Homo sapiens: one gene and its partners. The protein of the gene in region 1 interacts with the protein of each later gene in a biochemical or structural test. Each region holds a gene or a part of one and is shown in the gene's direction. Other genes may lie near its edges. The genes, in order: MAGI1, SYNPO, LRP2 and LPP.

What was found.
Region 2: the proteins of MAGI1 (region 1) and SYNPO form a complex in vitro, tested with the Homo sapiens proteins (one study listed by BioGRID).
Region 3: the proteins of MAGI1 (region 1) and LRP2 form a complex in vitro, tested with the Homo sapiens proteins (one study listed by BioGRID).
Region 4: the proteins of MAGI1 (region 1) and LPP form a complex in vitro, tested with the Homo sapiens proteins (one study listed by BioGRID).

What each region holds. Positions count from the first base shown.
Region 1 is NC_000003.12:65,377,917-65,384,941, reverse strand, and holds part of MAGI1 (membrane-associated guanylate kinase, WW and PDZ domain-containing protein 1), read left to right. Parts: intron 1-1,318; coding exon 1,319-1,410; intron 1,411-2,872; coding exon 2,873-3,065; intron 3,066-3,815; exon of another isoform or gene 3,816-3,893; intron 3,894-5,387; coding exon 5,388-5,681; intron 5,682-7,025. UniProt on the Homo sapiens protein: Plays a role in coupling actin fibers to cell junctions in endothelial cells, via its interaction with AMOTL2 and CDH5. May regulate acid-induced ASIC3 currents by modulating its expression at the cell surface.
Region 2 is NC_000005.10:150,636,184-150,643,682, forward strand, and holds the start of SYNPO (synaptopodin), read left to right. Parts: upstream 1-4,476; 5' UTR 4,477-4,671; intron 4,672-7,499. UniProt on the Homo sapiens protein: Actin-associated protein that may play a role in modulating actin-based shape and motility of dendritic spines and renal podocyte foot processes.
Region 3 is NC_000002.12:169,240,518-169,247,542, reverse strand, and holds part of LRP2 (low-density lipoprotein receptor-related protein 2 precursor), read left to right. Parts: intron 1-27; coding exon 28-165; intron 166-556; coding exon 557-838; intron 839-2,610; coding exon 2,611-2,850; intron 2,851-4,020; coding exon 4,021-4,140; intron 4,141-4,470; coding exon 4,471-4,587; intron 4,588-6,177; coding exon 6,178-6,555; intron 6,556-7,025. UniProt on the Homo sapiens protein: Multiligand endocytic receptor. Acts together with CUBN to mediate endocytosis of high-density lipoproteins. Mediates receptor-mediated uptake of polybasic drugs such as aprotinin, aminoglycosides and polymyxin B.
Region 4 is NC_000003.12:188,150,299-188,157,167, forward strand, and holds the start of LPP (lipoma-preferred partner), read left to right. Parts: upstream 1-3,858; 5' UTR 3,859-3,954; intron 3,955-6,869. UniProt on the Homo sapiens protein: May play a structural role at sites of cell adhesion in maintaining cell shape and motility. In addition to these structural functions, it may also be implicated in signaling events and activation of gene transcription.

The sequences.
Region 1 (7,025 bases):
TCCTAATAAAATTTGTACAGTCACCCCTCAGTGTCTGCTGGGGATTGGTTTCAGGACACCCGCATCCCCCACCAAGGATATAAAAATCCATGGATGCTTAAATCCCTAGAAAATAGCCTAATATTTGTGTGTAACACACACACACACACACACACACACACCCCTTCCTATATTATTTATTTGTTTGTTTGTTGTTTGTTTATTTATTTGAGACAGGGTCTTACTCTGTCACCCAGGCTGGAGTGCACTGGGGCAATCATGGCTCACTGCAGTCTCAACCTCCCTGGCTCAAGTGATTCTCCCACCTCAGCTCCCGAATAGCTAGGAGTACAGGCACACACCACCATACCTGGCTCATTTTTTATTTTTTGTAGAGACAAGGTCTCACTATGTTGCCCAGACTTGAATGCCTGGGCTCAAGCGATTCGCCTGCCTTGGCCTCCCAAAGTGCTGGGAGTGCCACTGTGAGCCACTGCACCCCACCTCCTATATACTTTAAATCATCTCTACATTACTTATGACATCTAATACAATGCAAATGCCATGTAAATAGTTGTGATACTGTATTACTTAGGGAATAACGAGAAGAAAAAAATCTGTACGTATTCATCACAGCTAAAACCATTGTAGGTCTAACAAATTTTCTATCTGTGATTGGTTGAATCTAAGGATGCAGAACCCACAGATATGGAGGACTGACTGTATGCAGAAATACTAGGATGTTTTAGAGTAATTTTTGGCAAAAATGATCTAACAAAGCCTATTAGCATTGCTAGCCTTAATTATTTTAAGGAAGAAGAAAGTGACTTAAAGATAAATCAGAAAGTCTGTTTAAACCAAGCTGTTCTCTTTCATCCTCTAGTAGAGGAAACATCTGGTGACTTAACATGACTTCCGAATCCTTAGATCTGGCTTCAGAGGTGACTCTGACTTAGCCTGAGTGTTCTTGGACATGGACACCTGCTTTGTGGTGTGGCACATAATAATTTTAATTTACTTAATTCTCCTTGCAAGAATACTGAGGAAAGCAGTTAATGCTGACTATTTGTAGTTAAGGATCATGGCTTGGGCTTGATTCGGAATTATCAAACAGTGATGGGTCCTGTGAAGAACTTTAGGGCTCAGTGACTATTCCCACTGTTTATCCCCGTGTCTTCCATTATTTCACCTGTTCAGAGTATTTTGTTTCTTTGCCTATATTGAAAATCTTCCATCTGATCAAGCACCACCATTCTTGTCCTGCAACTGTGTTCATCTTGGGGGTATCATTGCTTTTATCAGTAAAATAATCCTTCTCTTTTTTCTCCCCTCTCTGCAGTTCCAGATTACCAGGAACAGGACATCTTCCTCTGGAGAAAAGAGACTGGATTTGGATTTAGGATTCTGGGTGGAAATGAACCAGGGGAACCTGTGAGTCTTTTGCTTGTCTCTCTTCCCAGCATATTTTTCTAAGGCTTCAAAGCAAATTGGCGACAGTGACAAATCACCAAGATTTAAGTCCAGCTAGATGCAACACTGACTCTTTAATCTTGAGTAGTGTGGGTTTCTCATTGGGTTTTGTGGAGCTCTCTTTGTCTTGAGGAAGAAGAGACTAGATTCTTTCTAAAAAGTTTGTATGAGTGTTTGTGAAAGGTGGGAGCTGCCTCTGTAGACCACCCCTTTTCCCCCAAGGGAGATGAAAACAGAAAGCAAAACAGGAATAGGCATCACCTAATATCACAGTGGCCTGGTCCTTCTGGCCAGGTCCCTTCACTCTGCCAGCAGGTAGTAGGCTTTGTATGTTGAGTTGCTGGTGTGCAGAGAGTACTTCGCAAAGCCTTATGAGACAGTGATTGGAGAATGTCAGACCCCTGCCTTTACAAAACTTGAGAAAGAACCCTGAGTAAGGGTCAAGAAACATTGAACTTCCCTGGGCCTCAGTGTCCTCCATTTTGGAATAAATTTAGAATAACATAACAGGGTTCCTTTGAAGGAAGAAAAGAAAACTGAAATAGGTATCGTTAATTTCCTTGTGGTAATAACAGCCATTATTCATCGAGCGCTTACTATGTGCCAGGTTCTGTGCTAAAGGCTCTTAACATACATTCTCTCATTTATCCGTCAAACCCACCAGTTTATCCCGTTTTCACATCAAGGAAAAGAAAGGCTAACTAACTTGCCCAAGATCGCAGAGCTACCAAATGGAGGGACTGACAAATAAGGTCTGACTCGAGTTCATGTTCTTAGCAACTATTTTGTCAAAGTTCTTTGTAAACTATAAATGCCACGTAAAGGTAGCTATAGCATTATTGTCTGCTGGAAAGGCAAGGCAGGCACAAATATTTTAGCTAAGGTTTAGTGAATGGCAAATATAACAGCAAGACACTAACTATAAAGAGTGCTCTGCTTTCGGGTGCTAAAAGACTTCAAAAATGGAGATGTCCAACCAACTTTTGCTTCATTCATTCATTTAAGAGTATTTATTACAGATTCCCTATTCCTAGGCATGATGCTAGACCCTTAAATAAAAGTAATATTAATATTTTAATTAGCAGAGTTTTATGGAAAGAGAGTTTTTAGGTAGCTACCAAAGAAGAATAGGGTATATAATGAAGGGAGAAAAGTAATTTATATCTGCAAAGGGGAAAAAGAGAGTGAGTCATCAATAGGCCACAGATAAACATCTGGAAACTAAGCAAGAAATACTCTTTCCACCATTTAAGAATTGTTGCAGTGCTTAGCACAATGTCTTGTACACAGTGGGTGCTCAATAAATGTTTGCGGCATGCCTGCAGACATGAATGAATGAATTGTTCCCAGAGATGTGAAGGCTATTGATGTAACAGTAAACATAGGAGAGCAATGTTTCATCCATCGTTCAATTACTCAACAGATTTATATTGGTCACATCGTACCACTGGGTGCTGCTGATACTGACGGCCGCCTGAGGTCTGGAGATGAATTAATCTGTGTGGATGGGACGCCAGTAATTGGAAAATCACACCAGCTTGTGGTCCAGCTTATGCAACAAGCTGCCAAGCAAGGCCACGTCAATCTCACGGTGCGGCGTAAAGTGGTTTTTGCGGGTATGTATTTCATTCATTCCTTCAGACAGTGCGTTGTCACTTTATTCACAGAAAAGGCCTCCTTCCTGTGTCTGCCTCCTTGAGCGTCTATTTTAGCAAATGTTTGCAAATGTGATCAAGCTCAGAATTTCCAGATGGCTTGCTTCTCTCAAACCCTGCAAAAATTACTGTCATTCTAAAGTACTTTAATGTGCCGTTTGCATGTGTTCAACAAAGGCTTCCAGAGGAAGGCTAGTTGAATATATATTACTTCCCTTCTATCTCCTTGCAAATCAGAACTTAGCCATCCTCTTCATTTGATGCTAATCCTCAGCAAATGAGGTCATTATGAAAGTCAGAAGAGTTGTAGCTTCATATCAAGGGAACAAAAATCGGGTTTGTGCTACAAAATAAGCTCATAAAAAAGTTACTGATTTCTTACTGTCCTATGTATTAAACCAAGATTTTTTTTTTTTCTTTCTACAAGAAAGTTGTAGAGCTGGCCAGTTCTAGGTCAGCTTTGATTCCTTCTTCCTGCCCATAAGCTTTGAACTTTAATTCTCAAAATACTACATATCCTTTCAGGCTCAGCTCAAATATAACTTTCTTCCCTTGGAAATTCCTCCTTCCTCCAACTGCCTTCAGATTTTAGCATTCCCTCCTTGCCATTCTAGTGACTCATGGTTTACTGCTGTATCAGAATCTGCCATTTTGAGACAGTGAATTGTGTGAGTGTTTGTCCTTTCCCTTGAAAGCTCACGTTGAACACACCTTGGTTGTTCACCTTTGGATGCAGCTCCCACCTTGAAACCTTTAAGGCAGAACCCAGAGTGCAGCAGAGGTGATTGTCTTCTATCAGTGGAATTACTGGAGAAATATGACCTGAAATATTATGAATTCTCTTGGCATTCATATTAGTGAAACAGATACCTGTCAGATAAAATTAATTGGTAACTTCTTTTAAAAAAAAAGAGTATAACCCATTTTAAATGGTATATGATTAATTATAGAATTAAGATGTTAAATTCCAGTGTGTTTGTGACCTCACAATCCTTCTTAACATACTATTCCATGTAGCTAAAAGCAGTCAGCTGGAACGAGTTTTTGAGATGAGATGAAAACTAACTATCTCGCTTCCCTGGCCCAAATAGAAATAGTAAGGCAATGTGATTTTTTTTGTTGTTTCAGGTTTATTTTTTTAAATCTTAAATATTTTGGATTTTTAGCTCTGTGTAAAAGGCGTGTCAAATCTATGAAGAGACATTATGCAAGTGAACTAGTCACAAAAGGAGAAATATTGATTCCCTTTATATGAGATACCTAGGGTAGTCAAATTTATAGAGATAGAAAGCAGAATGATGGTTGGTGGGGGGTGGAGGAAATAGGAAGGGGAATTAGTTTTTAATGAGTACAGAGTTTCAATTTGGGAAAATGACAAAATTCTGGAGATGGATGATGATGATGGTTGCACAAAAATGTGAATGCACTTAATACCACTCAACTGTATGCTTAAAAATGGTTTAAAAATTTGTTATGCTTATTTTTCCAAAATTAAAACAATCTATGAAAAGAGAAGCTTTTGGAAATAAATACAGTCTGATCCAAAACTTGGACACAACACACATTTTGTTTTTTGGCATAGTTGGTTCCACCTACGGTGTTGGCTATTTAGGAGTGCTTTACCTTGCAGTCTGATGGTAACACTAGAACGGTGACTAAATTCAGAAGGAGGCCAGTGTATCCAGTTCTGTGATCAGAGTCGATGTTGACACCTGGAAGCTAAGAAGAGAAGCATGTGTATGTCTCACAGGTGTTGTCATGAACCCCACATAGGGCGGGTAGCCTCAACGTTACCATCACCTTACTGTTTGTCGCCTGATGGAAAAAGCTGGGTGGAAATGTGACTGGAAAGTAATGACAATGTGAACGTGCATCCAAGGTTGTATCTATGAAGCCAAGATGGCGGTCTTCACGGGTGTAGCCCTCACCTACGCTTAGGCCCTTCCCTTTGTGCAATGGGGAAATATTTCACAGCAGGCCGATCTTGCTGCAGACTTGATTCTGAGTGTGGATGTCGACATATAGCATGCTATAAACAACAAACGCTATTTGGGAGTCCCATTTGGTGTTAGGTGGGATCAATGTTCGTAGATACTGAATGGTTAATATTTGTCAAGAGAAGCTGCTTTCAATCCGTATATCCAGGTATTGTGAAACCAGGTGCTGTCTCCTCCCCTCGGTTCACGTTTTGATTTCTAGCAGGAGTTGCTGGAAGGAGGGAGGGGCAGCAGGATGGAGGGGCTGCAGGACACGGTGATGTACGCGTGCATCTCTCTGCTACAGTGCCCAAAACCGAGAACGAGGTGCCCTCGCCAGCCTCCTCTCATCACAGTAGCAACCAGCCGGCCTCGCTGACAGAAGAGAAGCGCACTCCGCAGGGCAGCCAGAACTCGCTGAACACGGTGAGCTCGGGCAGCGGCAGCACCAGCGGCATCGGCAGTGGCGGCGGCGGGGGCAGCGGCGTGGTCAGCACCGTGGTGCAGCCCTACGACGTGGAGATCCGGCGCGGGGAGAACGAGGGCTTCGGCTTCGTCATCGTGTCCTCGGTGAGCAGGCCCGAAGCAGGCACGACCTTTGGTGAGTGCTGAACGTGAAATTACCCAGGGTTTCCCACCATGCCTGGGAGTTTTTGTTCTCTTGCGAGTGAAAGCTGACTCAGACCTCACGTGCAGAAATGCTTTATAGCTTCTTGCTCTGGGTAATTAAAGACTTAATTGGAGATGGAGTTGATTTGGTAGCTTTTTCCCTTTTGAAGGTTGGGAATATTTGTTCAACCCTTTCAACTTCCACACTGAGAATGTGATCACGCATACACAACTTAAAGCATACATCAGATTTGCGTGAAATTTGAATAGCAGCCGGGCGCTGTTGCTCACGCCTGTAATCCCAGCACTTTGGGAGGCCGAGGAGGGTGAATCACTTGAGGTCAGGAGTTTGAGACCAACCTGGCCAACGTGGTGAAACCCTGTCTCTACTAAAAGTACAAAAAGTAGCTGGGCGTGGTAGTGCATGCCTGTAATCCCAGCTACCTGGGAAGCTGAGGCAAGAGAATCGCTTGAACCTGGGAGGTGGAGGTTGCAGTGAGCCGAGATTGTGCCACTGCATTCCAGCCTGGGTGACACAGCGAGACTCTGTCTTAAAAAAAAAAAAAAAAGAAAAGGAAAGGAAAGAAAAGAAATTTGAATAGGAACCCCTGGACAGCATACAGAGTCTACAGTTTTTGCCAAAGCAAGGCTTTCGAAAGGTCTTGAATAGGATAGCACTAATTGCAAGGGCCTCAGAATGGTCTTAAGAATGTCTTAAGAGTTTTTACAAGGAGCATACGGCTGTAAAAATGCTCTAGGAAAAACAGAGGTGTAAGGAGTAAAAATACTACATGAGATGCTAGTCTGCCTCATCTGTGTTCTTTCTCTACTCTATCCCCATAGGAATTTTTTTTAATTTTAAATAATATTTTTACTGTTGCTTGATTTAAAGTCTGGTTAAAATCTGAGTTAAGAGTCATTCGATTTTCCTGTCTCGTCCAGACATTGAGGGTTTCAGCAAAGTATGGAGAAACACAGTTGTCACTTTCTCAGAAGGATTCACTCTCTTCTGGGTACACTAGCAAAGACCAATAGAAACCCAGATGATTGCAGAAACTAGTGATATATGAATCTGCTTCCCATTGCAATGGATTGATTATAGATGTACACTCCAAAAATGATCCACCTTCCTGATTGGGTAAAAAGTCATTTGTTATCTCCCAAGCACATTTGTTACTTACTATGGAATACAATGGGAGAAGGGGAAGGGCTGTGCAGGCTGTGTGGGCTTTTCATGTACCTCAGCTCTATCCCTGAATGACTTATCCACATGGAAACTGGCTAGAATCAGCAAGGTGCTACAACCCTTTAGCATTCTCATCCAGTAGAGCTCACT
Region 2 (7,499 bases), on another chromosome or scaffold:
CCATGCACCACCTATACATATTTTCTTTAAATTTTGTTAGTGAAATGTCCACTTTAGCCTCTCCTTAAGCAGTAATATACCTGAGATCACAAGTGTGTTCATTATACCTCTTTTCCAATTCACATTTGAAATGTATATAACTATTAAGATTTTAAATATCAAGGTACCACCTAAAATCCTTTTTGCTTCCATTAGTGGTGGGGGCACCACACTCTAGGAACCACCAGTCCAGTCCAATCCCTCCTTTGGACAAATTGGATGCACTGAGGCCCCAAGAGGGTCAGGGATCAGCCCAGTGTCTCACCCAAATTGTGACAGGACAGACCCTGGAACCAAATCTCCTGACTTCTAGTCTTCTTTTCTTTTATAATTTGAGGGAAACATGGAGGGCAGGACTGCATGATTCAGCCTCTCCCTGGCAGGAGACTCCTCCTGTTGGAGTGGGGCCAGACCTGCCTGGTAATTGGTGAATGGCAGCAGAGGAGAGGGCCATGGCAGGGTCAGCAGCCTCCAGCACCCCAGAGCCATGGTGTCCTCCTCTGAGGGGGCCTGGGGTTCAAAACTGGTTCTGGCTAGAAGTGACATGGGGATCCCCTGTGCAGAGAGAACGCGGGGTGGGGGGTGTTGGGAAGGGGGATGGGGTTGGACTGTGTCTGATAATGAGCAGAAGAGTGAGACCAGACCCAGAGAGGGGTGGTGAAGACAGGGAGAGAGACAGATACAGCCCCAGCCTGGTCGAGTTACGCAGAGGTGGGTGTGTGCAAAAGCCTACAGTTAACCACCCCCCAATGTGTGCACAGTGCTTTATACTTTAGAAATCATTGCTGCATTTCATTTACTCAGCAGCTACTCTGCAAAGCAGATATTATTATCCCTGTTTTACTGATGATGAAGTTGAGACTCAGAGAGGTGAAGTGATTTACTGAAGGTAGCCCAGCAATTTGAATAGGATGCCTTGCTGAGCCATAGATGGGGGAAGAACTGGCTGCACCTCTGATTGGATTTGGTAAAGGAGGGCTGTCTGTGGGAGGAGCGGGCAGGCTGAATGGATTCGGGAGTGAGGGGCCGGCTGGAAACCCACAATCCACTCACTGGCCAAATAACCTTGACAAATCACAAAACCTTTCTTTTTGAGGCTCAGTTTCCTCATCTGTAAAATGGGAATAATGGTACTCCCTAACTCACAGCCTGTGAGGATAAAATAAAACAACATGATGAAAAATGATAACACTGAAACCGAATGCCTCGCACATTAGAAGTGCTCAGTAAGCAGCAACTTGAGTAATGAACATGATTGCACCCGGCCCCTGAGGAGTTTGCACACGGTGACCACCTGCCACGACTGAGGGATTCCCAGCGCCTTCTTTGGCAGCTGTGAGCGCGCCTGAGACCCCGTCTGGGGAACCCGCAGGGGTTGGGGGCAGGTTTGTCTGTCCCAGAGCCCCAGGCTGGTGATGACGCCTCCTGGGGATAAACCTCATCTCTCTGTTGTTTACCCCATGTGCGGTGACTTTGTCATTATCGTTCCTCCTGCGTTTTTTCTTTGAGTTATTTATTTTTCTGTGAGGAAGGAATGTGGGGAATTTACCACAGGGCGCTGTCCTTCACTTTCAGCTGGGCTGCACGGCGTCCTTTCCTATAAGAAGGAAGCTGCTGAGACAGATGGCAGGAGAGGTGGAGGCGGAGGGTCCCAGCTGGCTCTGTGGCCCAAGGAGTTGGGGGCAGTTATGTAACCCACCCGGAGGCCCAGGTTCTGGTCTCCGGGCATGAGCCTGGTAATGTACATAGCTCCTGTGGAACTGTGCCTAGCCCTCCCCATTCACCCCTGGCCTCTGGGCAAGCCCAGTGGGTGTGTTCCTCTATCAAAGTTTCCTTTCTATTCAGCTGGTCTTGATTTGGGGTATGGGGGTAGGTAGGGGAGTGGGGTGGGGGTTATCTTGAACCTCCTAGTCTCTGCTGAGCTATCATCATTGCTTAGAATGCTTCCTTATCTCCATCTTTCAAGAGCTAGGACATATGTCACCTCCTCCAGGAAGACTTCCTGGATTGCTTCATCCTAATTCATCTTTCTCTTAGGTTGTATGTTCTCCCCTCACTTCATGAAACATTCTTCCCCTTAGGTCTAACACAGTGATTTGAGATTTCATCTCCTTCCCTCACAAACGTGTTGCTCTCTCCTTCCTTCTCCTCCCACTCCCAGGAACCACCCTCTAGATCTTTGATCTAGAATCTAGATGAATCTTGGATTTAGACAAATCTAAAATTCATCTCCAGGGATGAATGGTGAAGCAAAATGTGAAGGGGGAGGCTTTGGATTCTGGAAGTGCTTGTCCTTTAGTAGTTTATTTAATCAACACAGTGATGGTTTCAACCCCTCCTGGGTGATGGCTTCTGCTGAGTCTGGGGACATTTACAGAGGACAGAGACCAGTCCTGGCCCTAGGCTGGCACAGGGCTAAGGGGAAGGACCACATCTTTGTGGCGGGCCCAGAGTGTGTCAGGCCCTGGGAAGAGTGGAGGGGACCCGCAGATGACCTAGGCCCTGCCCTGACCCTGGCAGAGGCACTGTTTAGGGGAAACCACCTCTTTCCCTGCCCTGGCTTGCCACCTTTTTGTCTTTTAGATTATGTGTTTTCTCTGGAAAGGCAGGGTATGATGGTTCTTTCTGTACTCCCAAGGCTTCCAGGGAGCTGGGGCTGGGGAGAGTGAAACAGCAGGAGGGGGCTTCGTGAGCACAGGCTTAGCTCACCAGGGTTGGACTGGAGAGGTGGAAGCCTGGGCTGTGATCCTGTGATCCTCTCTGTGAGCCCTCCCTTTTCAGTTTGCTGTATACCTGGGGCTCAGCTTGCCTCTCTCTGGGTTACCATCTCAAAGTTTCTAAAAATTGACTGATTATAGATTAATAATTACCCCAGTAGAATGGGCAAGAGAGAGGCTGTGGCTCCTGGCCTTTGGCAGGGCCCTGGTCAGCCAACAGGGAGCAGGGCTTGTGGTCTGCAAGGATAGAAGATGGGTCAGGCTTGCGCTGACTGTGGAGCCCTCATCTTAGCTTCCCCTTACCCATCCATCTCTGCCCTCCCTGATCCCGACCCACTGCCAGCAGAGAGAAACCAGAAGTTTGGCCAGGCCCAGCCTCCTTCCCCTGGGTTTCTGAGTTTTCTCAACCTGCCGTTTCCTCTGAGCTCTGTTCCTGCTCTGGGGCCTCTGGGCCAGGTTGAACAGGGGAGGAGCACTGATCTAGGAGTCTGAATGGATTGATGAGGGCTTCCTACAAGAAGTGGCCGTTGGGCTGGGCCTGGATGGGTGAGTAAGGAAGGTGAATTTGCTTTGTGGGGAGCTCTTCAGAAGGAAGGCGTCCAGGCTTGAGATCAGTCAGACCGCAGGGGCCCCTTGCTAAGCTGTGAGACCTGGGGTGAGTTAGCTGCTTCTGTGTGCCTCATCTTCCTTATCTACAAAATGGGGATAAGGGAACCTCCTCTATGAGTTGCTGTGAGGATTAAATGAAAAAAGGCATGTTAAACCCTTGGCTTGGCAGCATCTGGTGCTCCCAAAATGTTGGCTCTTGTCATTCTCATAGATTTCATGTTTATTCTGCAAGTGCCAATGGAAGATGTGGTGGGGACAAGGGAGGAATACCGAAGTGAAGCAGTAGAGGCCCCTGCCCTCGAGGCCGTTGCAGTCTCTGGGGGAAAATAGGGCCCAGACCCTCATTGCTACAAAGCAAAACACTGGGAGGGGGCAGCATGGCCCACGTGACTGGCCCTGCACTGGGCATTAGGCCAACCTGGGCTTGAATTTCAGCTCTTCCTCTGGCTGGCTGTGTGACCTTGAGCAAGTTGCTGCACCCCTCTGAGCCAGCGTCTTCTCTAATATGGAGATGAGGATAGTGCTGGCCTCATGGGTTGCTGTGGAAGTAAGTGAAGTAAGGCCCTGTCCTGCTACCTGGCATGTGGTGAGTATACCCTGAAAGATTACTTTTACTAGAATAAATAATACACAAGGTGGTGGTTATTAAGTGATGCAGACAGAACATTGGTGAAGGCTTTTTGGAGGGGGTGGTGGCATTCTAGGTAGGCCGGAAATCTGAAGGATTAGGGCATGTAGAAAGGATGTGAGACAGAGGAGGGTTCCCGGTAGAGGGGGTCTGTGCAAACGCTGCTTTGCAGGCAGGAATTCATTGGGCAGCTGTGGGAACTGCAAGCCACTGAACTCCCTCCACTGTTGCTGAGGGCACAGAGAGAAGGTGAGTGAGCTCTTGGGCAGGCCCCGATAGCAGGGGTTTGAATGCCAGGATGAGGACTCTCCTCTTGATCCTCCATGTCCTGGGGAGGCAGCAGAGGGTTTTGAGCAGGAGAGAGGCATGAGTGGAGCCCGGAGGGAGGAAGATGAATCTGGCAGCGTGGGGCGGGTAGATTGGCGGGGGAGAGACTGGGGGTGGAGAGGCCATTTAAAAGGCTGTTGCAAAATCGGTTTTCCTGATAAAGAGCTGGGCTGAGTCATCTGTGGAGGAGAAAAGTCACATCCAGCTCCTTCATGTTGCTGCCGATGTGGGATTTTCCTGGCTTCGTCAGCCAAGCAATTGGCTGCCTTTGCCGGAGGCTTTGAGAACCAAGGCTTGAAGGCCGGCAGGAGCATCCAGGGGGAAGCTTGGCTTCAGGGAGGACCTAGCAGAGTGAGTAAGATGAGCACCCGGAGGTGCCTTTGTGGCTTGGGGTATATGACTTAGGGCATGTGGCATCCCCCCTCTGATCTTAGTCTGTCCTCTGGGCATCAAGGGAGAGGTATGTGGTGATTTCTGCCAGCCTGTGAGTGGTGAGGCGGGGGCTGGGCCTGGGGCTCCCCACCCCATTTCTGTGTCTTCTCCCATGCCCGGCAGTCCTTCCCACCAAAGTCTAGATTGTTCTCCTCCCAAGAGGAGGTCTGGCAGTCTGCCGACCCCAGTCAGATTGCGCTCGCCATGACTCTGGGGATGGAGAATTCTCCAGGGCATGGAGCCTGTGTCATTTCCTCCTTTCAGTGGGAGGAATGGGGAAGGGGCTGGCAAGGTAGCCAGGCCATTACTCAGGCCTCTCCATTTTCCTGCCCCCAGCTGAGCCAGAGGTTGTGCAGTGGCCAGTCATTGGTTCCTTCCTGACCTCACCAGGGGGGCAGTTTACCCAGCCTGTTTACCCTTCCTGTCGCCAAGACCCCTGGACTACCACAATGGGCTGCCTTGAGCCAATCTCTATTCCTACCCCTGGCTCTCTGTCCCACCCCGCCCCACCTGACCCTGGCTGGACACTCCCATTGACGGCATCGTGTGAAGAAGCATTTCCTTGAATTCTCCCTGTCCTGACCTTCTGCTCTGGCCTCCCTTCCCCGGCCCCACCTCCCTCCTGTGGATCCTCCATCCACACGGGCCCCAGTGGTGGGCAGAACAAGCAGCTGTCCACAGTGGGTGGTAGGGGTGGGGGAAAGGGTTTGTCCCTTTCTACGCCAAACAAGAACTGGGGTCTTCTGACTCCCAACATAGTGATCTTCCCACTCTACTCATCTTTCATGCCTTATCAGTCCTTTCTACCTTAGTAAGAATGAGTTTATCAACTCTTCTCCTGAAAGGAAGAAGTGGAAGAAAGAAGGAGTTGTTCTAGGCAGCTGGGTTTTCAGGGGAGAAGACATTGCTGAGGGGCATTGATCACAAGATGAGGGAGCAGAGGGCTTTGCAGACCATCATCCAAGAGCACTGGAGCCTCTCTTGTTTCTCCTCTTTCCAGAGTCCTAGTCTGGAAGGAGAATAGTTAAGAGATTAGACTCAGAGCCAGACTTTTCTGAGTTTGGATTCCAGCTCTGCCACTCATAAGTTGTGTGACCCTGGGCAGGTCTCTCTGAGCCCCAGTTTCATCTGCAGAATGAGAAGAATCACAGGACTTATGTCTGGGAGCTGTTGTAAGAACTGAACAAGGTGGTGAGCATAAAGTGCACAGCACTGAGCCTGGGCTGCAGCAGGGGCTCAGTAGTGACAGCAGTCGTTGCAAAGCCCCTTCTCATGGCTGTGCTGGGGCTTCTCGCCTACTCCCCCACTTCAGGATTTACCCTGTTGGACCCAGGTCTCCTGACCCCAGGCAGCTTTTCATTGTGCCCGCCCTCCACCCCTTCCTCTCTTGAAGGCCTATCTTCAGGGCTCCTGATCCAGTGTCCAGGGTGGGTCTTTAAAGGGCTAGCACCCCAACTTGGCCCTGCAGAAGTTTAGGTGGGGAGGCGGTGGGGACATCATGACTTGCACAAGTGCAGGCCACAGCCAGGCCGATTGAGGGTTCAATGAGGTACCTGTCCCCTGTAGCCTTTGGCTACCTCCCCACCCCCACCTTTGACACCAAGAGCATGATCTTGAGCAGCTGCTGCCTGGGATATTGCCAGAGAGGGCAGCTCCCTAGTCTGAGGAATTTTAGATGGAGTTGCCCCCTGGTGCCCTGCTACGAGGGACTCTAGGGTGTCCCCCCGCCTCCCCAGCTTTGTTTGTGAAGGGTGGCGAAAATCATCTGGATGGCTGGCTGGATCTGGTCCAAACCTCCTGCTGAATTCCTTTTCCATGGAGTCACTGTGGGCTGGAGTGCGGGCTGCAGGAGCTTGCCTTGGAGGGCAGGGCTCTCTTACCTCCTGGCCTTTTCTGCCATTCCTCTTGTTCCAGAACAGTAGCTTGGGAGCAGTTCTAAGCTCAGAGAGGTGGTGGTGATGGGATCTTAGCGGCAGCCCAGGTTGTGCATGGAGCCTCACTGAGAGTCAGCTGACCTGGTCTTGGGCTCACATCCTCCTCTCTGACCTCTTCCTTGGCTGGGCCTCCCAGGCCAGCTTATTTCTAAAGGCCCTTCATATTCTGACATTTGAGGATTTTCTAAACCCATGGCCTTCTAGAGCCAGTAAGGAGAAAAGCAGAAAAATGCAGGGGCATTGAGAGGTCTGGAGTAATCAAACACTGAAGTGCTTTCTATGAGCCTTGCAAGGTGGGAACCGGCCAGCCAGGAGCCTGGTGCTCTCTGCAGTAACGTAGAGCCAGGTGTGAACAGAGCTCTACTCCTTCTGGCTCTGTGATCGTGGGCAGCTCACTTTACCTCTCTGAGCCGTAGATTTCTCATCAATAAAGTGTGCATAATAATAGTTTGTGATTTGTAGGTTTGTTTTGGAAATTAAATAATATGAGTAAAGTCTGTGTATAGGTGTACAGTAAGTGACCAATCAATATTAGCTACTATTGCTGCAACTGTGTCATAAGAAACACTGGCAGGACTAGAGATGTTTATCCTGACCCTGTCCCAAGGGGATCTGATGTATCTGCAAATCTCTGCAGGGCTGTCAGGCTGGAATGAAAGAGAAAACTTTTTGTTGTTGTTGTTGAGATGGAATGTCGCTCTGTTGCCCAGGCTGCAGTGCAGTGGCGTGATCTCGGCTCACCGCAACCTCTGCCTCCCTAGTTCAAGCGATTCTTTTGCCTCAGCCTCCCAAGTAGCTGGGATTACAGGCGCC
Region 3 (7,025 bases), on another chromosome or scaffold:
TACTAATCTACCCATGTTTCTTTTCAGAGCATTTATTTTTTACTGACTGGAGACTGGGTGCCATTATTCGAGTCAGGAAAGCAGATGGTGGAGAAATGACAGTTATCCGAAGTGGCATTGCTTACATACTGCATTTGAAATCGTATGATGTCAACATCCAGACTGGTGAGTGAGATTGCCCAGTTTTTTTTATTTTTTTGTATGGGTTTATTTATTTGTTACAGTGGCTCCTGTTCTCTTTAAGTACTTATTACTTAAAGGTCTAGCTCCTGGTAGTTTTATATTCTTGTCGTTCACATAATCTAAGAGTGTAAGACTTGAAATCTCTGTTCAATGCTGCTAGCCTTAAACATGTTGTCAGGAAAAACACATTTTGGGACTTTTCCATACCTAAATGGAATGTTGTATTTGGCGGGTTGATTTCCAAGAGGAAGCTACTTTTTAGTATTGGGTCTGAAAAATGTTTTGTCCTGTTTGTTTTCCTTCACAAATCAAACCCGTGACCTACCTAGTGAAAATGTACATGACTGACTCCCTCGGGGCTTTGCTTTTGCAGGTTCTAACGCCTGTAATCAACCCACGCATCCTAACGGTGACTGCAGCCACTTCTGCTTCCCGGTGCCAAATTTCCAGCGAGTGTGTGGGTGCCCTTATGGAATGAGGCTGGCTTCCAATCACTTGACATGCGAGGGGGACCCAACCAATGAACCACCCACAGAGCAGTGTGGCTTATTTTCCTTCCCCTGTAAAAATGGCAGATGTGTGCCCAATTACTATCTCTGTGATGGAGTCGATGATTGTCATGATAACAGTGATGAGCAACTATGTGGCACACTTAGTAAGTAGCTATGCACTGGCGATATTTCCTGGGATGAATAGAGTAGAGGTGGGCTTTAAAGAAAATAAATAAAAGCTTGGGCTATTTATATGGGAAAAATATCTTTTAGAATTTCAGATTCTTAACATGCACTTTGAAGGCTTTTAGGAAGCTAAGCAAGAAATTTCATTCATAATGTTATGGATGGTTTCTGGCCTTGATTTAGACTATCTTCAACAATTTTTTTCCTTGACATTGGCTGTTTGGACCAATGCAGTCATTATGTCTTGGCAAACTCCTCAAAAAGTCAAATCGAAATAAACTAGATCTGACCAGGCAAGGTGGCTCATGCCTGTAATCGGAGGCCGAGACAGGAGGATTGCTTAAGTCCAGAAGTTTGAGACCAGCCTGGGAAACATGACGAAATCCGGTCTCTACAAAAAATATAAAATGGCACATGTATACATATGTAACTAACCTGCACATTGTGCACATGTACCCTAAAACTTAAAGTATAATAATAATAAATAAATAAAAAAGAAATAGATGAGCTCAGAAAAAAATATGTATATAAAATTACAAATAGCTGGGACTATTACAAAATACAAAATTACAAAATACAAAAAAAACAAAATTACAAGTAGCTAGGACTACAGGCACATGCCACCACACCCAGCTAATTTGTATTTTGTATTTTCACAAAATTTGTAAAATACAAAAATTTGTACTTGGGAGGCTGAGGTGGGAGAGTTGTTTGAGCTGGGGAGGTTGAGGCTGCAGTTAGCCAAGACTGTGCCGTGTACTTCAGCCTGTGCAACAGAGTGAAGCCCTGCCTCAAAAAAATAAGCAAACAAACAACAACAACAACAAAAACCAAAAATAAAGTAGACCTAACATTTAGCAACCGAGAGAATAGTATCACAGAATAACTACTTGCAATCATAGCCTTTGGAAAATCTCATGTGTTATATTCCTTTTCTCCCATGTTAGAGTAAAATAAATTAACAATGAAATGGTGGTCTTAACCTTTATATTCTTCTTTTGACGGTAATCTAGTCTATATAGTTTGGGGCCTAATAAACACTATTGCAGAAGGCAAAAGTATTACATTCAAATTAAAAAAAAGATAGAGGACAGTTGAAATCTCAGAAATCTCTATCAAGGTGAAGTTAATACTAATAATAACCTTTCTTTTGGAGAGAAAGAGGAGTGACAGATTTGCAAGAGTAAAGTGCTCACTTGTACATTTTTCTGAAATTTTTTAAATTTTCATCTTTTTGTGTATTATCTTCTTGTTTCTAAGAGCACAGCATTTTACCTTAATATTTTATCTATTTGCACTTTTCATATGACATATTTTCAAGCTTTCTATAGTCTGAATTTGAAATTGTGGTTGGAGGAAGTAACAGCTTGAAAGTTAAGGATGAGCTTTAGAGTGAATCCAACCAGAGCGTGAATCATAGGCAGGTTCCTAAATCTCTCAAAGACTCAATTTCCTTATCTGTAAAATGCAGACAATTATATGTACTTTATAGTATTCTTGTGAGGATTTAAAGAGAACTTATATGATGTGTGTGGGTGCATAACTTAGAAAAATGCCTTTTCTATGATAAATACCAAATAAATGCCAGCCAATAATGATGTTAGTGATGATGACATCACTTGATGAACATTTCTCCTTATTATATACAATGCCTCCATTAAAAAAGGTGAACTGAGCCTTTATAAGGCAAGAACTCATTTAAAAGGCTGTAAAAACAAATGTCTTCATGACCAGTTTGTTACTATTGTAGATAATACCTGTTCATCTTCGGCGTTCACCTGTGGCCATGGGGAGTGCATTCCTGCACACTGGCGCTGTGACAAACGCAACGACTGTGTGGATGGCAGTGATGAGCACAACTGCCCCACCCACGCACCTGCTTCCTGCCTTGACACCCAATACACCTGTGATAATCACCAGTGTATCTCAAAGAACTGGGTCTGTGACACAGACAATGATTGTGGGGATGGATCTGATGAAAAGAACTGCAGTAAGTTTTGAGCTGGTTTCCCTTGGTTGGTCAGCCTCGTAAATAGACTTCAACAACCAAATGGCCTTGCATTCTTTCCTCTAAGGCTCATGCAATTTTCATTGTCTCTTTAGTACTTCTATTCCACTTGTCAATCTCTGTGTCAATAGGTTACAAGAACAAAGGCACGTGCCTGCACATGGGATTCTTAGAGTCCACCTACAAATATTGAGTTCTATGGAAGCAAAGCAAGGACTGCCTCTGATGCCAAACATTTCAATTCAGATAGGAATTGAAAAAGTGAAAATCCCTCAGCTATCTATTTATATATTTAAAACAATACTAAAAGTCATATAGATATATCCAGACCTTTGGCTATTGATGTTTCTTTTTCATTTGGTACAAGCAAAAAGACATCAAAATAAAGAGGCACAGAAAATTTAAATTTCCTTTGATCTTATCCACCTGTTTTCCATCTTGCCAGTTCTGCTTTCCTTTAGCTTGTTGTTTTATTTCATGTCTTCAATAATAGTTTAAGATGGAGCAAAGTTCCCTGGGCTAAGTTCTAGTCCTGGTTGCCTGACTAGGCAAGTCACTATCATTTGGAATAGATGAGCTTTAAGATCCCTTCTAGCTTTCATACCCTATAAGTGTGTATTTAATATAATTTCATGTTGTGGGTGGGGCCAGCCACTGCATCCGACTCCAAGGCTATGGTCTTAACAGTAAGGTAGGACCCTGGTTTTTAGAATTGTTCTGTTCAGACTTTTAAATCCAGTTTTGGGGGTCTGTCTACACACTGTTGCTACTAGGCATGTGGGTCATGCTGGTTTTGTTGCCTGATTGGGCTCCATTGCTTGGCTTTGGTCTAGAGTCATGGACTTCATAGTATTCATGAAATGTAGTCCAAGTCCAAGCACATGATGCTCACTTTCTGAATGTGGTCTATTTTCCAAGGTGTAATCACAGTTTCTGACTCTGCCCTGTAATCTTTTTATTCTCAATTCTAAAACCTATCCTAGTTTTGAGTTCTTTTGCTTAGCTGACTTTGATAGTGTGGCTGATTCAAAAGAATTTTGAACCCATGTACAATTGAGATAACTTCTGTAGCTATTTAGCCATTTTTAGTTTGGCTCTGGTACTTGTTGCACAGGAAATAAACTTGTTGGTTTTGTTTTCGGATGACATTAGATTCGACAGAGACATGCCAACCTAGTCAGTTTAATTGCCCCAATCATCGATGTATTGACCTATCGTTTGTCTGTGATGGTGACAAGGATTGTGTTGATGGATCTGATGAGGTTGGTTGTGGTAAGTGCATTGCCTTCTTTTTTATTCACAATGTTTATTTAGAAAAATCTCAGTGTTAACACATGGACACAGGGAGGGGAACATCACACACCGGGGCCTGTTGGGGGGTGGGGAGCTAGAGAAGGGATGGCATTAGGAGAAATACCTAATGTAGATGATGGGTTGATGGGTGCAGCAAACCACCATGGCACGTGTATACCTATGTAACAAACCTGCATGTTCTGCATATGTACTCCAGAACTTAAAGTATAACAACAAAAAAGAAAAATCTCAGTGTTTAGTCATTTTAGCCCTGAGCTAATTTCTAATGCTTTTCTCTTTCATTCTTAGTATTAAACTGTACTGCTTCTCAATTCAAGTGTGCCAGTGGGGATAAATGTATTGGCGTCACAAATCGTTGTGATGGTGTTTTTGATTGCAGTGACAACTCGGATGAAGCAGGCTGTCGTAAGTAACACATACCCAGAATGTTTCAGACAAAGGGGTCATTTCATTTTTGCCAGTATTGATATTGATATTGCCACACATTTTCCCTAACTCAGACAAACTGGGGGAAAGTATCCTCAAAGGAATGTGGTATTGAACATACAGTAAAATTGAGTAGACATTGCCATATAATGTGTAATTAACAAATCAAGTGGTTGTATAAATGGACACTTCAAATAGTCTCTTAGATGGGCTAAATATTTCTTAGATATTTTTGTTTTCACTTTTAGTTTTTCTTAGGACTTCCCACTTTAGTAGGTTTAAACTTTTGAGGCTCTACTCCATATAAAGATATTTTACTGGTTTCTTTTAAGTTTCAGTAGAGAAGTCATATCATGGTGTAGAAATGGTATGGAGCTGTGTTTAGTATTGACTCTGATGAATTCATTCTTTGTGCTATTATGTGTTGAATATCTGCTAAGATGTTATCTATGGAGATTATAGAAGGCAAGAGACAATTAAGCAAGATAGACAGTTACAAGGGTCTTAGAAATGGCACAGATAAAATTCTATGGAGGTTCAGAGAAAAGAAATTTCTTCTAGTTGGAGGATTCAAGTAGGACTTCATACAGTATAATTCTGATGGATCTATAATCTTCACAGACTGGAAACCTATACTCACATGATTTGTTATTTGCCCACTTTTTGTTTTAAATGGATTTTAGACTTGCAAAAACTCATCAGTGAGTTGATCATTTGTTTGAACAATGGTGTTTTAGACCAAAAAAGTAAGTTTTCATGAATTCTCCTCCTGCGTCAGAAAGGTAGTGTGTAAAGCCATGGATTAAAAAGAAAAGTTAAATAAAATGCTTATATACTTTATAGTTTGCACAACATCTAGAAATTACTAATCACTAATTTTCCTGTTTCACATTAAAAACATAAAATTCTGTGATGAGCTGAGGTTAAACTGTCAATTGCCGCTGGCTTGCTGTTGCCTTGTGAGATCCCTGGTAGAGAGTTTTGGTTTACCCTTGTCAAATAGGGAAGCAGTTCTTACGTATCTCTCCAGGATTGCTTGATGAATAGTGGAAAGTTTGCAAAGAACTGAGTATTTACCATCATCTTTAGTTAGTGTGTGATGGTTTCATTAGGTATAGTTCATCTGAGGGAAAATAATAACACCCAAACATGATATGAAACACATGAAGTTCAAAGTAATCATAGCTATTTAAGCTCTATTGTAATGTTCTGGTGATTCTTTCATAGAAAGATAGATAAACTTTATTATTGAATCTGCAATTGGAAGTACATTAAAAACACAGGAAAAGGAAACAGGATGTTCTTTTGACACAGGTACTCATCTGCTAGTCAGCAGTTGTGCGTTCTGTACTTCGTTTGTTGTCAGAGCCACTAGCTGCCACAAAGAAATATTTCTATGTACTAGAGTGTGGGAGAAGACTCTATATCATTTAGCCTTAAATATTAATTTGGTCATAGTTGTTACTATAAACCTACTATTGGATCCAAAATCATTTCCTCTGAGTCTAGACTATAAAAGGGATCACAAATTACATTCACAAGCCGATTTACCCCATGTTTTCCTTCTAGCAACCAGGCCTCCTGGTATGTGCCACTCAGATGAATTTCAGTGCCAAGAAGATGGTATCTGCATCCCGAACTTCTGGGAATGTGATGGGCATCCAGACTGCCTCTATGGATCTGATGAGCACAATGCCTGTGTCCCCAAGACTTGCCCTTCATCATATTTCCACTGTGACAACGGAAACTGCATCCACAGGGCATGGCTCTGTGATCGGGACAATGACTGCGGGGATATGAGTGATGAGAAGGACTGCCCTACTCAGCCCTTTCGCTGTCCTAGTTGGCAATGGCAGTGTCTTGGCCATAACATCTGTGTGAATCTGAGTGTAGTGTGTGATGGCATCTTTGACTGCCCCAATGGGACAGATGAGTCCCCACTTTGCAGTAAGTTTCCTGACCACAGTTTACTGGCCATAAACTCATTCTGAACAGTAGCCTGGTGTGCATCACCATTGTCACAGTCACTGTGTAGCTTTGTAGGAAGGATTTCAGTTCCTCTATGAGTTCACATCTGTGTAGGGGGTAACCATAATTGAATTCAAATACATCACCATTGGATAATTTTCTGATTAAATCCTTTGTACTTGGTTATGTGTTTTTACTTCTTTTTATGTCTTTGTTTCAAAAAATGAGACTAAATTGAGGCCATTAGATTGTCAAATTAAATTTGGTTCTGTTGGTAATGTGCTCATTAATTTTTCTAACTTTAATATTTTCTAATTTCAATCAGAACTTATCACAAAAAAATGAAGTCCAGGGATTTGTGTTGCTGTGATTAAAGTGCTGTGATTGGCATGTAATCCTAATTACTGTCATTTCTTTCTTTCCTCTTTAATCAATGCTCACTCTCAGAT
Region 4 (6,869 bases), about 120 Mb from region 1:
CCCAGCACTTTGGGAGGCCGAGGAGGGCAGATCACGTGGTCAGGAGATCGAACCATCCTGGCTAACCTGGTGAAACCCCCGTCTCTACTAAAAATACAAAAAAAAAAAAAAAAAAAATTAGCCGGGCGTGGTGGCGAATGCCTGTAGTCCCAGCTACTCAGGAGGCTGAGGCAGGAGAATGGTGTGAACCCAGGAGGTGGAGCTTGAAGTGAGCAGAGATCACGTCACTGCACTCCAGCCTGGGCGACAGAGCAAGACTCCACCTCAAAAAAAGAAAAAAAAAAAAAAAAATGAGCTTACTCAGCTCTTAACACAGAGCTAGTACTTAAACTCCCTGGGCTTTAGGGCTTTAGTTTCTTCATGGATAAAATAAAAAAATAATAATGCCAACCTCAGAAGGGGTCTTGTGAGAGTTAAGTGAAATGTATATGAAAACTCCAAATAAGGACTGGCATGAGCTACACAAAGGCCACGTGTACAGGACTGTAATGGATGCAAACGAAAGGCAGGACCCAAGCCCAGCTTGCCTAAAAGTCTTTTATGCCATTACTGAACCCATGAAAATGCTGCTGGTAGCCTTTAGGCCACCAGTGTGCTATCCTTGGCCCAAACGACCCCACACTACACCTGAAATTCTGTGTTTTAGCCTCTGAATTGGTAAACCAGTATTTTTCTACCACTGAGTGCAAATTCATACAACCTTTCCATTTCACGCAAGCGCCTGCACGTAGAAAGTTGTAACAGGAGGTTGAGAAAAGTAAGAGTACGAAAGAAACCAGAACAGTAAATGGGAATGAGGCTTTTGGTAGGGTTAGCACTGACGACAACACTGTATGCAGTTCACTAAGCATCCAGATTATGACTTGGGTGGTTGTACTCTTGGGAAGTTCCTCATGAGTCAGAATTATCTTTTGTAGTTAACTTTATATGATGTTCATGCTAACACCATGCTCACCATGCTCACCTGAGCAATTCATAAACATTTCAGGAGGAGAAACACAGTGACTTCCCCAACACACCCATACAACAGTTTCAACATAATTAGTAGCATTTCTGGATCCGGCACAGTACTCTTATAATGTATATGATGGAAGAAATGAACAACTCTAATTACACCTTATTAAATCTTAATCCTCATTAGGACCCTATTATTCCTTATAAGTGAGTTACTGAAGGAAAAAAAAAAAGGAAATGCTGGTCAAGTCCCGTTATATTCCATGAGGATTGAGATAATCCATTTTTACTTCATGTAACACTGGAATTCTTTTCATACTAAACAGTAGTACTCAGAATGTGAGTACGCTGAAATGTTTGAGTGAGTGGATTGTGTTTTGATAGGATCTGACCTTTTCAGAACCCCAGAAAAAACTCTCTCCAAGAGCCCGTATCTCCCATTTCAAACTATGTTAGTTGCAAAGAGATAAATTCTTTATTAGTCTGTGGAATGGGTGGTTATTCTCGACCTTATCTCTCTGTTACTGCCTTCATATATATATATGTATGTGTGTATATATATATGTGTGTGTGTATATATATATGTATATATATGTGTATATATATGTATATATATGTGTATATATGTATATATATGTGTATATATATGTGTTTGTATATATATATATTTTTTTTTTTTGACAACAGTCTTGCTCTGTCCCCCAGGCTGGAGTGCAGTGGCGCAATCTCGGCTCACTAAAACCTTTGCCTCCCGGGTTCAGGCAATTCTCCTGCCTCAGCTTCCGGAATACCTGGGATTACAGGCGCTCGCCGCCACGCCCAGCTAGTTTTTTGTATTTTTGGTAGAGATGGGGTTTTGCCATGTTGGCCAGGCTGGCTCGAGCTCCTGACCTCAGGTGATTTGCCCGCCTCGGCGTCCCAAAGTGCTGGAATTACAGGTGTAAGCCACCGCGCCCAGCCATGTTCATATTTTTGTATGTGTACATTAGATAGTTGAGAGGAACACAGAGGTTAAGTAGTCTTACCCCTGAAATGTCTGAATTCAAACACTTATTAAGCACAAGGAAGGTGCTTAATAAATCCAATAACATGTGTTTTTACATTATTTCCTTAATTCCTGGTCAAAAGAATCCCACTAAAGTCCATCCTCAGAAGAACCACTTTTTGGAGTTTTTATGAATCAGTAGCTCATGGTGTACTCTCAACAGTTATGAATGGAATTAGGTCCTGCTAGAGGTCAGGGCCAGGTATGGAAAGATGAAGGGATTAGTCAGGAGACCTGGATGGGAGGAGGGGAAGACAGGTGCTTGGTCAGTCAGTTGTTTTGTGTTGGGCGAGTAACGTTTCTTAAGTTTTTGTCTGAGGTGTAAAGGGGGGACTACGCTCTGTCCTATCTAACTCACCTGAAGATGCAATAGCCGGGTGAGAGACTGCTTTCATTATGTGCTAACGTGAGGGATTACTTTAGATATTAATAGGAGAGAAGTGCAAGGAAAGGAAGTCTCAGGGTATGGAATGCTTTCCTGGCCATGGCTGCTGCGCGTCATAATCCCCTAACACAGTTAAGTGGTGGTTCTCATCGTCGTTCACCCTTACAGATGTCAGAGGGGAAAGAAAAATCCAACTCAAAACTTCCAATGACAGGCTTGTCTGTATTCAAACCAGTTCATCTCGTTCGCAGACTTTTTTGAAGCTATAAGCACAGAGCAAGCTTTCTGGGCGGGGCTCAGAAGTAAACGTTAAACTCCAGGGATTCATTTATTTGAGCACAGGACAGAGGAAGTTGCCCTGAAGCAACTGATTGTCATTGATATTCAGGGCTCGCTGTCAACCAGGACCTTCCAGGAACTGGCTCTGGGCCAAGAGCAGTAGAAATCACTGGGTGGTCCGCACAGCTCGCGGGCATCTAACCTGCTTCAAGGCTCAGGGCTAAAAGGGAGCCAGGGCCCTTCCTGGAGGCGGGAACCCAAGTGGGAGGCAGAGCGCCTGGGCCCGCTCCTCGATCTGCTGAGTGACGACCCTGTACAAGTCATTTCTCTTCCGAGAGCTTCAGTTTCCTCACGTGCCAAGCGGACGGGTTGGAAGTTGGTCTTTGCCAGCTCTGACACCTTGTAAGTTTTGAGTCTTGCTGGGAATCCAGGGCGGGGCTCACGAGGAAAATCTTGGAAGGGGATTTCATGGCTGGATCTCTTCCACTCAAGCTCAGTGCCCTAATTTGACGCCTTAATAGTAGACGCAGGCTTTTCCATTTTCCAGGAGCCCCCTGACGCGGCCGCTTCCTCCTACGTCTCCTTCCTCTTCCTCTAGCAGGGGCAAAGTCTCCACATCTCCCTCTTTCTCTTCCTCCTTTGCAAGCTCCCTGCATTCCCGCGTCTCCTCCTCTTCCTCCCAGGAAATGCAATGCCCTCAGTGCGCCCACCTTTTGGCAAAGCCACTGCCGGCTGCGGGTTTCCCCTCCCCCGCCAGGCGAGCTCTGCGCGGCGGCTTCGCGGGCACACGCCTTCCCATACCTTACATGGACAAATGCGTGCAGGCAAAGTCAGGAATTCAGGCCCCTGACGTCAGCCTCCAGCGCTCAGGGCACCGCACGGGAGACCAAGGGGAGGGGGTGGGGACGGTGGGGAGGAAGGAGGGGGAAAGGCACCAACCAGCAGCCGCTCCAGCCCTGCCGAAGTTTCACTTTTTGTCTGTGGGTTCGTTCCCGGGTCCCGCGCGAGCTTTCCCGGGATAAGTAGCTTTAGCGATCGGGAGACAGCCGGGCGCTGCAAGGTAAGGGCTGGCTGCACGGCCCGGGGCGCGGGGCGTGGGGCGCTGGGCGCGGGCGGCGCGCTCGAGGAGGCCAGTGTGGGGCGCGGGGCCGGGCCTGTCCGGGGCTGGGGACAATGGGAGGGGGAGTGCCCGGGCACCTCCTCCTCTGCCTCTGCCTCCGCCTCCAGCCGCCGCCGCCGCCGCCGCCGCCGCCACCACCACCGCCGCTGCCCCGGCTGCCTCCTCCCTGAGGTATTGTTGCAAATCCTTCCTTCCCCTCACCCTCCACCCGCGGGCGCCTCGGGAACCCCCAGCCCTCCCCCGGCGCGAGCGCCTCCGGGGTGGCAAGAGCGCAGGGCGCGCGCCCTGCTCTGGCCTGGCCCGCTGTGCGGAAGTGCCGGCCGCGGCCCAATCACGGGGTGCACGCCATGGGGGAGGGGGACCCAGAGTTTTTCCAAAAGCGTCGACCCCAGGCTAGGCGGGGTTGGAGCCTTGCGCGCCCCCTGCCCGGACTTTTCTGGGCGCCCAGGGGGCGGGGCCACGCCCATCCGCTTAGAGCTTTCGCGGAATCACAGTTGTCACAGCGGAAAGGGCCTAGACCCAGTCCTCCAAGTCCTCCCATTTTACAGTTGGGGCAGCTGAGGCCCAGAGAGAAGGAGGGTCGCCCGGAAGTTATTTACTAGAGGCCAGACCATAATTCAAATAGTTGGCTCCGGACTTAAGTTCCCTTTCTCTAAGCATTTCTCTAGCACCCTGTGTGTGGCAGACCCTGTGCTGGGTGTATTGGACGTTGCCCTCAAGGAACTCAGTTGAACCTGGGAGTCAAACCTGGCCTAGGGTAGAAAATGCTAAGTGCTGGAGCAAAGGCGTGGACAAAGTTAAAGGAAGTTCCAGGGAGGGGGTTTGATTTTCTGGTCCCTGGGACGGCCTTTTGGAGAGTCCTGCACTGAATGGGGTTTTTGGAGGTTGAGGAGTTTCCTGAAGCCAGCTAGCGGCTTGGAGGAAGACATCTCTTCGAGGGAACCGTGGGCCAGAGAAGACTAAGTAGTGTGGGAAATGGAGATGAAAGTATAAATATTCTTTAGTTGGAGGCAAGGGGTTGGGGATGGGGGAGGTTGTGATATGAGATGAGCTAATCAGTGGAATTGTGCCTGGGTGCTTGGACAGGGCAGAGTCTTTGGAACCTCGGAGTCGTAGGAGAACTGAAAAATCTCTCTGGCTTCCCTTCCCTTAGAAGGGATCCACTGCTTTCCCTCCCCCAACACAAAACAACTAGCGAGAACTCAGGGTCTTCTCTGGGGCTTTTGCTAGTACCAAACTCACTTAACTGTGTTTCCAGTCCCCTTTCTCTTTCCATTCCTTCCCCTTTTACTAAATCTCTTGCCTTTCCTGTAAAATTCACTCTCACTAAGGTGTTGATGACTTAATGGCTTACCTTTCCCTGCACATGTGCATTTTAAGAAAGCCTAAAGTGAAGAAGGGGAAAGTGTGGCTAGGCACCTTTACAAAGCATCTAGCTCCCTCTCCCATCCTCCCCCTTCCTCAACTCTTATAGATAGAAGAATAGGTAAAGGTCCACGAAGGTGGGTGCTAGACCTAGAGCCTATGGTCAATAATGGTGGACAGTGGGGGGTTAGGACATCCAATATGGTTTTCTCCACTTCGTCACCAGTTTTTCTGCTTGCACAGTTCCTGCCAGCACCAGGGGGCAGTTAAAGGAAAAAGTGTGTGGGCCAGGCACGGTGGCTCACGCCTGTAATCCCAGCACTTTGGGAGGCCAAGGCGGGCGGATTGCCTGAGCTCAGGAGTTAGAAACCAGCCTGGGCAACATGGCAAAACCCTGTCTCTACTAAAAATACAAAAAATTAGCTGGGTGTGGTGGCGGGGAACTGTAGTCCCAGCTACTCGGGAGGCTGAGGCAGGAGAATCGCTTGAACCCGGGAGGCAGAGGTTGCAGTGAGTTGAGATCACACCACTGCACTCTAGCCTGGGCGACAGAGGGAGACTGCCTCTCAAAAAAAACAAAAAACAACAACAACAAACAAAGGAGAGTGTGCATTTTTGCATTTAATTTCTACAATGCAGGCCCCAACCCCAACACCCAAAACTTTATAGTCTAGAATGTAGGCTCCAGAGGGGATTACCTATTCTGAATGGTAGGGGTAAAAGCCTGGGGCCTTAGGGTCTGGCAGTCCCCCCAGAGGCAGGCTCTCTGTAAGCAGCATGGGTCTAGAGTTGGTTTTGAGTGTACGCAGAGGGAGGAGAAGCTGAGCTGATGAGCTGATTGCTGTGGCTGGGACTTGAGTAGGATCTTTCTTAGAGTGACACATTCTGGTGAAGACAGTTCCAGGAAATGATGGACGGGAGAGGAAACTTGGTTATAAAGGGGCTTAAAAATGCCAGGCTAAGGAGTTTGGATATATCTTAAATTCATCATTTGAGGGTTTTGAGCAGGCTGAGACATGATTTAGAGGGGAGGTACTGGCATCGAGAAGCCCCCTGCTGCCCAATTCCAATGAGAGAGGTAATAATTTGGCCTAAGAATATTATTGGCTTGGCACGATGGCTCAAGCCTGTAATGCCAGCACTTTGGGAGGCTCGAGGCAGGTGGATCACCTGAGGTCAGGAGTTTAAGACAGCCTGGCCAACATCGTGAAACCCCGTCTCTACTAAAAATACAAAAATTAGCCGGGTGTGGTGGCATGTGCCTGTAGTAGTACCAGCTGCTTGGGAGGCTGCGGCAGGAGAATCACTTGAACCTGGGAAGAGGAGGTTGCAGTGAGCCGAGATTGCACCATTGCACTCTAGCCTGGGTGACAGAGTGAGACTCCATTTCCTCTGCTGCGCCCCACCCCCCCAAGAAAAATAATATTATCAATTGGTTCTTGTTCATTTACTCGACATAGGTTACTGAATACCTATTACGTACCATTGGCAAATATGAAAATTTTATAGCAGATTCCTGTATTTTATTGAGACAAATACGTTGTATCGAATCAATTGTAAAACACACTTTTTTCACATTTTAATATCACTGAAATGTGGTTGTCTTATTACAATGTACCATAGTTGTGCAGTTGTTTTTCATCCTAAGTTGGTAATGGCACATCTTATAGTTGATGGCTTAAATCTGATAAAATTGTTCATCATGTCGTTTATGAATGTAC